Linked DNA regions of Homo sapiens. The protein of the gene in region 2 purifies or fractionates together with the protein of the main gene of each other region. This does not show direct contact. Each region holds a gene or a part of one and is shown on either strand. Other genes may lie near its edges.

The links. The genes of interacting proteins can lie anywhere in the genome.
Region 1: the proteins of MORN5 (region 2) and BCAT1 purify together in Homo sapiens (affinity purification with mass spectrometry; 2 studies listed by BioGRID and IntAct, with this or other methods). This does not show direct contact.

Annotation. Positions count from the first base shown.
Region 1 is NC_000012.12:24,827,069-24,834,109, forward strand, and holds part of BCAT1 (branched-chain-amino-acid aminotransferase, cytosolic), read right to left. Parts: intron 5,796-7,041; coding exon 5,655-5,795; intron 3,722-5,654; exon of another isoform or gene 3,633-3,721; intron 2,830-3,632; coding exon 2,755-2,829; intron 1-2,754.
Region 2 is NC_000009.12:122,197,890-122,200,606, forward strand, and holds the end of MORN5 (MORN repeat-containing protein 5), read left to right. Parts: intron 1-1,995; coding exon 1,996-2,042; 3' UTR 2,043-2,194; downstream 2,195-2,717.

The DNA.
Region 1 (7,041 bases), on a different chromosome or scaffold from region 2:
ATGTCATCTGCTAAGAAAGCTAATTTAACTTCTTCTTTTCCAATTTGGATGCCCTTTATTTATTTTTCCTGCCTATTTGCCCTGGCCTCTAAACCTCTGTTTTGGAAAAAGGCTTTCATGTAATCTAGCCAGTTATGTATTTTTTGTTCTATTTGTGTTCTTTATTTGAGCAAAACTGTAATAATTTATTATTTTCAGATTTACTCAGGCAACCTTAAAAAAATTAAAATGCCTAAGCCATCCATGCAGAAATTTTTATTAGCTACTCTTCAAATTACTTGTAAGTGTTGCTGTGTACAAAGGTAGAAAACAACTCTGACTAAATTTTATTTCTTCCAATATTAAGATATTCCTTTACTTAGCTTACAGAAAATTCTCATAGAAAACCTTTGCTGGAGAGCAGAAGTATGGCAGCTCATTGATTAAAAAACCACAATCAAGGCCAGGGTGCGGTGGCTCATGCCTGTAATCTCAGCACTTTGGGAGGCTAAGGTGGGCAAATCACTTGAGGCTAGGAGTTTGAGACCAGCCTGGCCAACATGGCGAAACCTCGACTCTACTAAAAATACAAAAATTAGCCAGGCATGATGGTGCATGCCCATAATCCCTGCTGTGTGGGAGGCTGAGGCACAAGAATCACTTGAACCCAGGAGGCAGGGGTTGCAGTGAGCTGAGATTGCACCACTGCACCCCAGCCTGAGCAACAGAGTAAGACTCTGTCTCAAAAAAACAAACAGAAACAAAAACACACTTTCTTTCTTTTTAATACTGTAAATTTGGCAGAAAACTTGCTGAGTAAGTCTCTTTTAAAACTGCCTTTTAAACTCTCTTTTAAACTTTTATTTTTATTTTATTTCCCTTTTTTTAGAGGAAGGTTCTCACTATGTTGCCTAGGCTAGTCTTGAACACCTGGCCTCAAGCGATCCTCCTGTCTTGGCCTCCCATAGTGTTGGGATTATAGGTGTGAGCCACTGCACCCAGCCAGAAATGCCATTTTTATCACTACCCAAGGACCTCCATTGCTCTCTGGAGGCCTGTTGCATTCTCAGCCACCTTTAAGTTTCACTTAGTTTCATGACTTAATGCCATCCGACATCACTCAAATGATCAAACTTTATTTTACTTTTCAATGTAAGTCTCAGGCCCTCTTGGATATTTTTACTAATTGACAAGGATAGTAACTGGCTTCAACAAAGTCTTCTAACTTGTGAAATGCTTGCAAATTACAGGATAATCTCTTTTCTGAGTAGCCCAGTGTTATCTGGTATTTAGCATGCCTGCTTAACTGCCTGATGAGGCATTACTGTAGATTATTGCTCAGAAAAAAAATAGGCAAAACAAAGTTAGCAGTATGAAAAAATAGACGTGTATACTCTTTGATCCCAGATTTATCCTTAGGAAGTAATCGAGGATGTACTGTCCATACTAGTGAAAAAAAAATTGCCAACAACATAAATGTTCAATAATATAATTTTTTAAAAAAATTATGGTACATCAATATAATGGAATTCAATTAAACTTTATAAATGGTGTTGGAGAAAACTACTTATTGATATAAAAAAGCAAAGCATTTATTCAGTGAAAAAACATGTAACAAAATTATGTACAATATGATCCCATTTTGTTAGGAAAAAATAACTATCTAAAAGTATACTGGCTGGGCATGGTGGCTCACGGCTGTAATCCCAGCACTTTGGGAAGCCAAGGCGGGTGGATCACCTGAGGTCAAGAGTTCAAGACCAGCCTGGCCAACAGGGCAAAACCTCATCTCTACTAAAAATACAAAAATTAGCCGGGAACGGTGGCATGAGACCTGTAATCCCAGCTACTCGGGAGGCTGAGGCAGAAGAATCGCTTGAACCCAGGAGGTGGAGGTTGTAGTGAGCTGAGATCATGCCACTGTTCTCCAGCCTGGGTGACACAGCGAGACTTAGTCTCAAAAATAAATAAGTAAATAAATAAATAAATAAATAAATAAATAAATAAAGTATATAAATGCTTACAAAATATTGAAGGTTAAGACATCAAAAAATGGCAGGGCACAGTGGTTCATGCCTGTAATCCCAACAATTTAGGAGGCCAAGGCAGGTGGATTACCTTAGGTCAGGAGTTCAAGACCAGCCTGGCCAACATGGTGAAATCCCATCTCTACTAAAAACACAAAAATTAGCTGGGCATGGTGGCGCACACCTATAATCCCAGCTACTCGGGAGGCTGAGGTAGGAAAATTGCTTGAACCCGGGAGGCAGAGGTTGCAGTGAGCCAAGATCGTGCCATCGTACTCCAGCCTGGGCAACAAGAGTGAAACTCCAGCTCAAAAATAAAAAGACATAAAAAATTAACAGTGATTATATCTCAGTGTTGGAATCACATGCACTGTAATTTTCTTCCTGAAGTTGCTTCTACTTTCAAATTTTTTCTTCCTTTTTTTAACAAAAGTTATGTTATCCTTCTTAATGAGATTTTTAAATGTTACCAAAAATTACATCTATTTTTTAATGTTAAGTAATGTGGAGTCCTGAACAATATTTTCTTTCTTTTTTTAAAACATACATCTTCTTTCCCATTTCTGCTTTGCTCATGCCCACACATTGTGTTGGGAATATCTTCCTTAAATTTAACTTATTGATCTCAAATTGTATTATTTAATCCTCTTCATTGAAATATAATTTAGTTGTAAGCTCTGACAGAAATAAGGTGACATAAAAAAAAGAAAAGAAAAGGAAAGAAAAGAAAAGAAAAGAAAAGCTTTACCTGGATATCAGTTAATTTGCTCAAGATGCGGCTTGCCAGCTTAGGACCATTCTCCATAGTTGGAATGTGTATTGTCTACAAAAGAAAGGGAAATGAGATAATTTGAGGGTACTCATGTATATGGTGATAACAGATAAGACACTCAAGCAATTCTGCTATACTAAGGCAATTCCACTGAAGTTAAGGAATAGCACTAAAACCTACTGACTCTGAGTGCTAGCACCTTATGCCAAAGACTTTCATATCCAAAATTTGAATAAAAACTAGCCAATGACAGGTTATACATTGCCTACCTACCAATTAATTTTAGGGCATAACTGGTTTGTATACCAGCCTTCAGGATCATTTGAAGAACCAAGGAGGAGCTACAGTTACCTAAAATAGTGGCTAAACTTAAAGAACCCTACCTCTTCCAAGATTCTGAGAATCTGTAAGGATGAATGATTGTCTTCTACATATTAACCCTCTGGCTAATATGAGAACTCAAAGATATTTTGCCACAGTTTAATGCAAGTCATTCTGGGAGCATAAATTAAAGCAAGTCTATGACTTCATAAAAGGGGCTTCTATACCTATCTCTGGCCCAAGGTAAACTTCCAGGGGCCACTACCTCCACAATATTGGATAGCATGATTAAATGCATGGCTGAAAGAGATTTCATGCTTCTAATTTGTATCTGAGTCATGCCTACTCATGCCTTGCTGGCTTGCAGGTTTTGATAGTTTGATTTTAGGAGATAGTCTGTGCTCTCAAACACTTTTCATATTATACCCTTTAGTATAATATGATAATTATATATACTTACTTTTTGGCTGTAAATGCTTCCTAAGCCTGGATCATTAAAATTATGCTAAACTTTATAAACTTCTTATTTCTAGAAGTGAAATAATAATTCAACTTAAAAAAAATCTGGCCTAATGACAACTTCAGTGGATGGATCACATTACCTTGATGCATTCTTATCAATGTAAGTATTGACATGAAACAGAACAATTCTTCTCCCATGAAACAGTCTATCTGTTGATGCAATTATGTCAAGAGCAATCCCTTAAAAGCAAGTTCTAAAACCTCAACAAATGAAGCAGCCATTATTAAAGTCAGAGGAGTTGAGCAAAACTCCAATCAGCTGAGGGAAAATAACTCTAAAGTAAAATTTGAAAACCAGTGGAGTTTGCATTTACGGTTGACACTTGAACAACACGGGTTTGAACTACACAAGTTCACTTATACGTGGACTTTCTTCTGCCTCTGCCACTCCTAAAACAGCAAGACCAATCCCTCCTCCTCCTCCTCCTCCTCAGCCTACTCAACATGATGGACAATGAGGATGAAGACCTTTATGATGATCCACTTCCATGTAATGAATAGTAAATATATTTTCCCTTCCCCATGATTTTCGTAACTTACTTTATTGTAAGAATACATATATAACATACATAACATACAAAATATGTGCCAATCGACTGTTTTTGTTGTTGATAAGGCTTCCGGTGAACAGCAGGCTACTAGTAGTTAAGTTTTTGGGAAGTCAAAAGTTATATGTGGGCCGGGCATGGTGACTCACGCCTGTAATACCAGCACTTTGGGAGGTCAAGGCAGGTGAATCACTTGAACTCAAGAGTTTGAGACCAGCCTGTGAAACATCTTGAAACCCCGTCTCTACAAAAAATACTAAAATTAGCTGGGTGTGGTGGTGCACACCTGTGGTCCCAGCTACTTGGGAGACTGAGGTGAGAGGATCGCTTGAGCTTGGGAGGCGGAGGTTGCAGTGAGCCGAGATTGTGCCCCTGCACTCCAGTACAGGTGACAGAGAAAGACCCCGTTTAAAAAAACAAACAAACAAAAAAAGTTGTATGTGGATTTTTCAACTGCATGGGGGTTGACACCCCTAATCCCTGTGTTGTTCAAGGATCTGCTATAATATGAATAACTTAAGCCAGTTCACATTATAAGACTAATACTTACATGCCTTTAAGTTATAAAGTTAGATGCCAATGTTAATCATAAGTATTGGAGCTTTGTTATAAAGTGAAAAGCAAAACAATTTGACAAGAAAACAAAAGTATGGCACATATAAAATCAGACTAATTTACTAAGAGGAGAACATTTCTTCCAACCAAATCCTCAAATTCCTTTTGTAAGATTTTAGTAAATGCACCAGGTTTGCCAATGAATAATTCTTGTAAAGTGGTCTACTTACTATTAATGATAACAGCATTAATAGTAAAAAAAAATCAAGGGATTGACCACTCGAATGCATTTTCCATAACTATTTGCCATTCCTAATCCAGTGGTTTGGAAGTACTTTTGGTTAACCAGAAACTGAAATGTAACTACCTATAGAGCCTTCCCTAGTGAGCTGGTAGGAAGGAAGAGAGAAGAGTAGAAGACTGTCGGCATAGCTCCAATCCCGACATGTAGGTAAGACAGATCTTACACGTGTCCAAGGACAAAACTAACTTCCCACCATGTTTAAGCTTACATGAAATCACTGGAAACATAGTAGATATATGCTAATACAGTTTCATCTGGATAAACTGTCCCAGTTATTTTTTTTGTAGTGCCAAGTTAAAAAACAAAAACAACAACAAAAAAGACCTAGCATGGTGCGGTGGCGCACTCCTGTAATCCCAGCAACTCAGGAGGCTGAAGCAGAAGGATTGCGTGAGCCCAGGAGTTTGAGGCTGCAGTGAGCTATGATCACACCAGTGAATAGCCACTGCACTCCAGCCTGGGCAACACAGCGAGACTCCATCTCTTTAAAATAAAGAAAAACAACAACAACGACAAAACTTTTGCATCTTGGGTCTGGGTCCAGATACAATTTTATTCATACACTTAAATTAAATGTAATTTAATGTGATTGGAAATGATAGGAAATGAGGAAATACTTGTCGTACCTCGCCTTTGTACAGTATATCAGAAACTGGGCAAACAACACAGGCTGTACCAGAGCCAAACATCTCTCTCACTCTGTTCCCCTCCAGGGCTGTTGTCAAGTCATCCATGGTGAGGTATCTCTCTGACACCTTAAATTCACCCTGCATGGAATATAAAAAATAACAAGTATATTTTAAAGGAAAAGGCATGCAAAACAATTGCAATACTTACTGTTCTGCTTAACATTCTGATTGCACTTAGACAAGGTCACAATCATCCTTTAAGGGAAAGCTGGAAGTGGCACACCATCTTACTGGTGAACACATCGAGGTGTTAAGTAACCTACTTCAAGGTCACAGATTTATATATGAGATTATCAGAATATAAAATATAAGATTATCACCACAAGACACATGGTATACTTTAACATATGCCTTCTTTTTTGCCTTCTTATTTGTTAACTTGTATAAAGTCTCACAAAATTGATGCATCCCAAATGCTGCTTGATGCATGCTCCGTGTTAACAGTGTCTTAGGCCGGGCACGGTGGCTCATGCCTGTAATCTCTGCATTTGGGGAGGCTGAGGCAGGCAGATTACTTGAGGTCAGGAGTTTGAGACCAGCCTGGCCAACCTGGTAAAACCCTGTCTCTACTAAAAATACAAAAATTAGCCAGGCATGGTGGCGGGTGCCTGTAATCCCAGCTACTCAGGAGGCTGAGGCAGGAGAATCGCTTGAACTCAGGAGGCAGAGGTTGCAGTGAACCAAGATCACGTCACTGCAGTCCAGCCTGGGTGACGGAGTGAGACTCTGTCTCCAAAAACAAAACAAAACAAAAAAATCAGTGTCTTAAAACCTACTTTACCATAAAGGAGAACAATGTATTATATAATATTAATAATTATAGCTACCATTTATCAAGCACCCGCTATTATGCCAAGTTCTGTAATTTTAAGGGTGAGTACTATCATCCCCATTTTACAGATGAGGAAACTAAGGTTCAAGGAGGTTGAAGGGCATCTCCAGGGCCACAAAGGAAGTAAGTGACAGAAACTCAATTTGAACCCAGGTCTGATCTGATTGGCTCCAAATTTGGTACTCTTTCTACGTTTGTCTCTTTCTTTTTTTTTTTTTTTTAAGACAGGGTCTTGCCCTGTCACCCAGGCTGGAATGCAGTGGCATAATCTTGGCTCATTGCAGCCTCGACCTCCCAGGCCCAAGTGATCCTCCTGTCTCAGTCTCCTGAGCACCTGGGACTACAGGTGTATGCTGCCATGCCCAACTAGGTTTTATATTTTATATTTTATTTTGTAAAGATAGGGGTCTCCCTATGTTGCCCAGGCTGGGCTCATGTGATCCTCCCACCTCAGCCTCCCAAAGTGCCAAAGTGCTGGGATTATAGTTGTGA
Region 2 (2,717 bases):
GCAGCAGGGACTCCCAGGCAGCCTCCCCAGAGGAAACTGAGGCTCACTGGCTGCTTGCCAGAGTGTGCCAGGCAGCAAGCCGTTTTCCTTAGGTCTCATGTAAAGAAATGGTGGGCAGGTGGTTAGTGATGTGGAGGCAGCCTCAGCTCCTGGCGTGCTCACATCTGCCCTGGGGTGAGAGGTCAGGCTGCAGAGCCTGGTGAACCTTGGTTGGAATCCACTGGCGATGGACTTAGGACAAGGCTCTCCCCTACCTGACTGGGCTGTTACAAAGATCCAATGAGACACAGTGTCTGCAAAGCACCAAGCACACATAGGCTGTCTGTGAGCCTCCATCTCTCTGCCCCTGGGTCTGGTGCCTTTCACACAAAAGGAAGGCATCCCTGGCAGGGGATCTGATTCAGGCAAGCTTTCCGCCAGCCCTCTGTATTTCAGCTCTCAGGGAGTGCCCTTGTTCCCAAGCATCTGCCATTTGTCACCCAAGGAGGGTGGACACACCCATCCTCCCATCTCTTAGGCAGGAGGCACTGGGCTAGACACAGGGTAAGGAGAGGAGGCAAGAACTCCTCCAGTACTCTGGCCCTCAGGAGAACTGGTTAAAGGCAGGGAGTGGCACCAAGGGAAGGGAGGAGTGGCAGGAAGGTGGAGAGGCAGGAAGGCAGGGAGAAGGCAGCGTGGTGTGAAAAAAGCATGGGCAGCTGGAAGGACGGTGCAGGAAGGATGAGCAGGACTCGTTGACCCTCCTCCTGGAAGGAACGTAACCCCAGAGACATTCTCCACGTATCTGTGAAGGAGTGTGGCCAAGAACGCTTGTCCCAGCATTGTTCCTGGTAGTGGGAGTTGCAGGCAACCTCCGCGTCCACCACCGGCATGGAGAGGAAAATGTGACGGAAGCCAAGCATGGAATATTAGGCAACAGTAAGAAGCAAAGAGCTGGATGTACACACAGCAACAAGAATAGATCTTGAGTGAAAGCTGTGAGACATAATGAAAGCCACAGCACAATGCCATTTCTGTAAATTAAAAACACATTTGTACACAAAACAACAGCACATATTTTACAGAGCAACATGCATTTTGAGGGGTCTCTATCCCACCATTGGTGTAGGTCCCTGCAGTGGTGGAGGAGGGGCCCGGTATGGGTTTGGAGGAGAAAGGAGGAAAAATGAAAATAAAGTAAATCCACGGAGGGGTCTTGCACAGAGAGATGATGGCAGCGTGCTGTGGACTGAATGTGATTCACTCAAGTCTCTTTATTTGAGGTTTAAAAAACAGCACAGGCTTTATAGCTGGACAATCCTAGGTTCTAGTCTGAGCTCTCCCACATACTGACCCTGTGGCTGTGGACAAGTGCCTCGGCCTCTGTGAGCCTCTGTTTGTTCATCTGTAAAACGGTGGTGAAGGCTTGCCCATTGCGTGGTTGGTCACGAAGATTAAACTAAGGAGACACTGCGTTTAGGGCTTTCAGGCACAGCGGCGAGCTCCTGCCCCTCTCCGTTCCCCACTGAAAGGCCTGGAGTAAACAAGAGGGTGTTAGTCCCCTGGAGAAACCATGGGTTCTTGAAAGGGTCAAGAATGGAGAGCCTAGAAAGGAAATGAAGATCTCAGGACTCTGTCTCCTAGCACCACCGGCAAGGCCTAGACCCACTGTCCTGGGGCTGTCGTGCGTGGGCTGTCAGACCAGGCAAGTGCCCGACTGTGAAGCAGCTGCTCTCTGCCTGTCAGGATGAGTCCAGCTTAGGGTGGCCAGACTCCTCATGCTTGCCTCCGCCAGCAGCACCCACAGTTAGAAACCCTTCTGTGTTCAATTTCCCCAAGACCAGCCACTCCGAGGAATTCAGTGTAAATGAAAGGTCTGTTCCTCCCCACACAAAACTACACAGACTGGCCATCGACGGACCATCCCAGTCCCAACGCCCCACCTGGGGAACCCCCCAGGCCAGGAAAGGTCCCAGCGAGCACCAAGCATGACCAGCTCTTCCTCTTTCCTTGCAGATGATGACGAGCATGAGTGGATCACCCGTACCTGTCGAAAGGGCTAGGATGAGATCGTGGGTCACAGGCCCGAGCCGTGAACTCTGTGGCTGCCTCCACCAGAGGTTTCCATCTGCCCTACTAGCATTGGCTGCCCTGGGGGACGGGCTGTAGTTCTAGAACCTGATTTTAACTCAGGAATAAAGACTTTCTGCGGTCAGTGGCCCCAGGTGTATTTTCCTTAAAAGATTGTTCCTCAGTGGGCATCATTTAACCTGGACAAAATTGTGAGCTATAGATATTCCCAGGCCCCACCCTAGACCTCCCAATCAGAATCTCTGGGAATGGGGCCTAGTAATTTGCATTCCCAGCATTTCTCATGCATCTGAACGTTTGAGAACCATCTCTTTATAATAATAGATAGATGTAATTGAGCACTAACCGGCGCAGGTAGTGCGTGTGCATTATCTCTGCTCCTCACAACAGCCTTGCAAGGGGAAGGCTTTTGCAGATGGGGAATCTGAGGTTCAGAGAGACAGAGTGACTTGCTTGGTCTCAGAGGGCAGTAGGACCTGATCACTGTGCCCAGTCCTGCAGCAGTCATGGGTTCTTAGTTTCTGTTTCTGGTTGGGCCAGTGAAGCCCCTTCCTCATCCCTCTTTTCTGCTTATCACTAGAGACAGAAACTAAAAACCATGGCTTCAGGCTGCTGAAAGCCTAAAACAAAACAGAACACAAAAACAA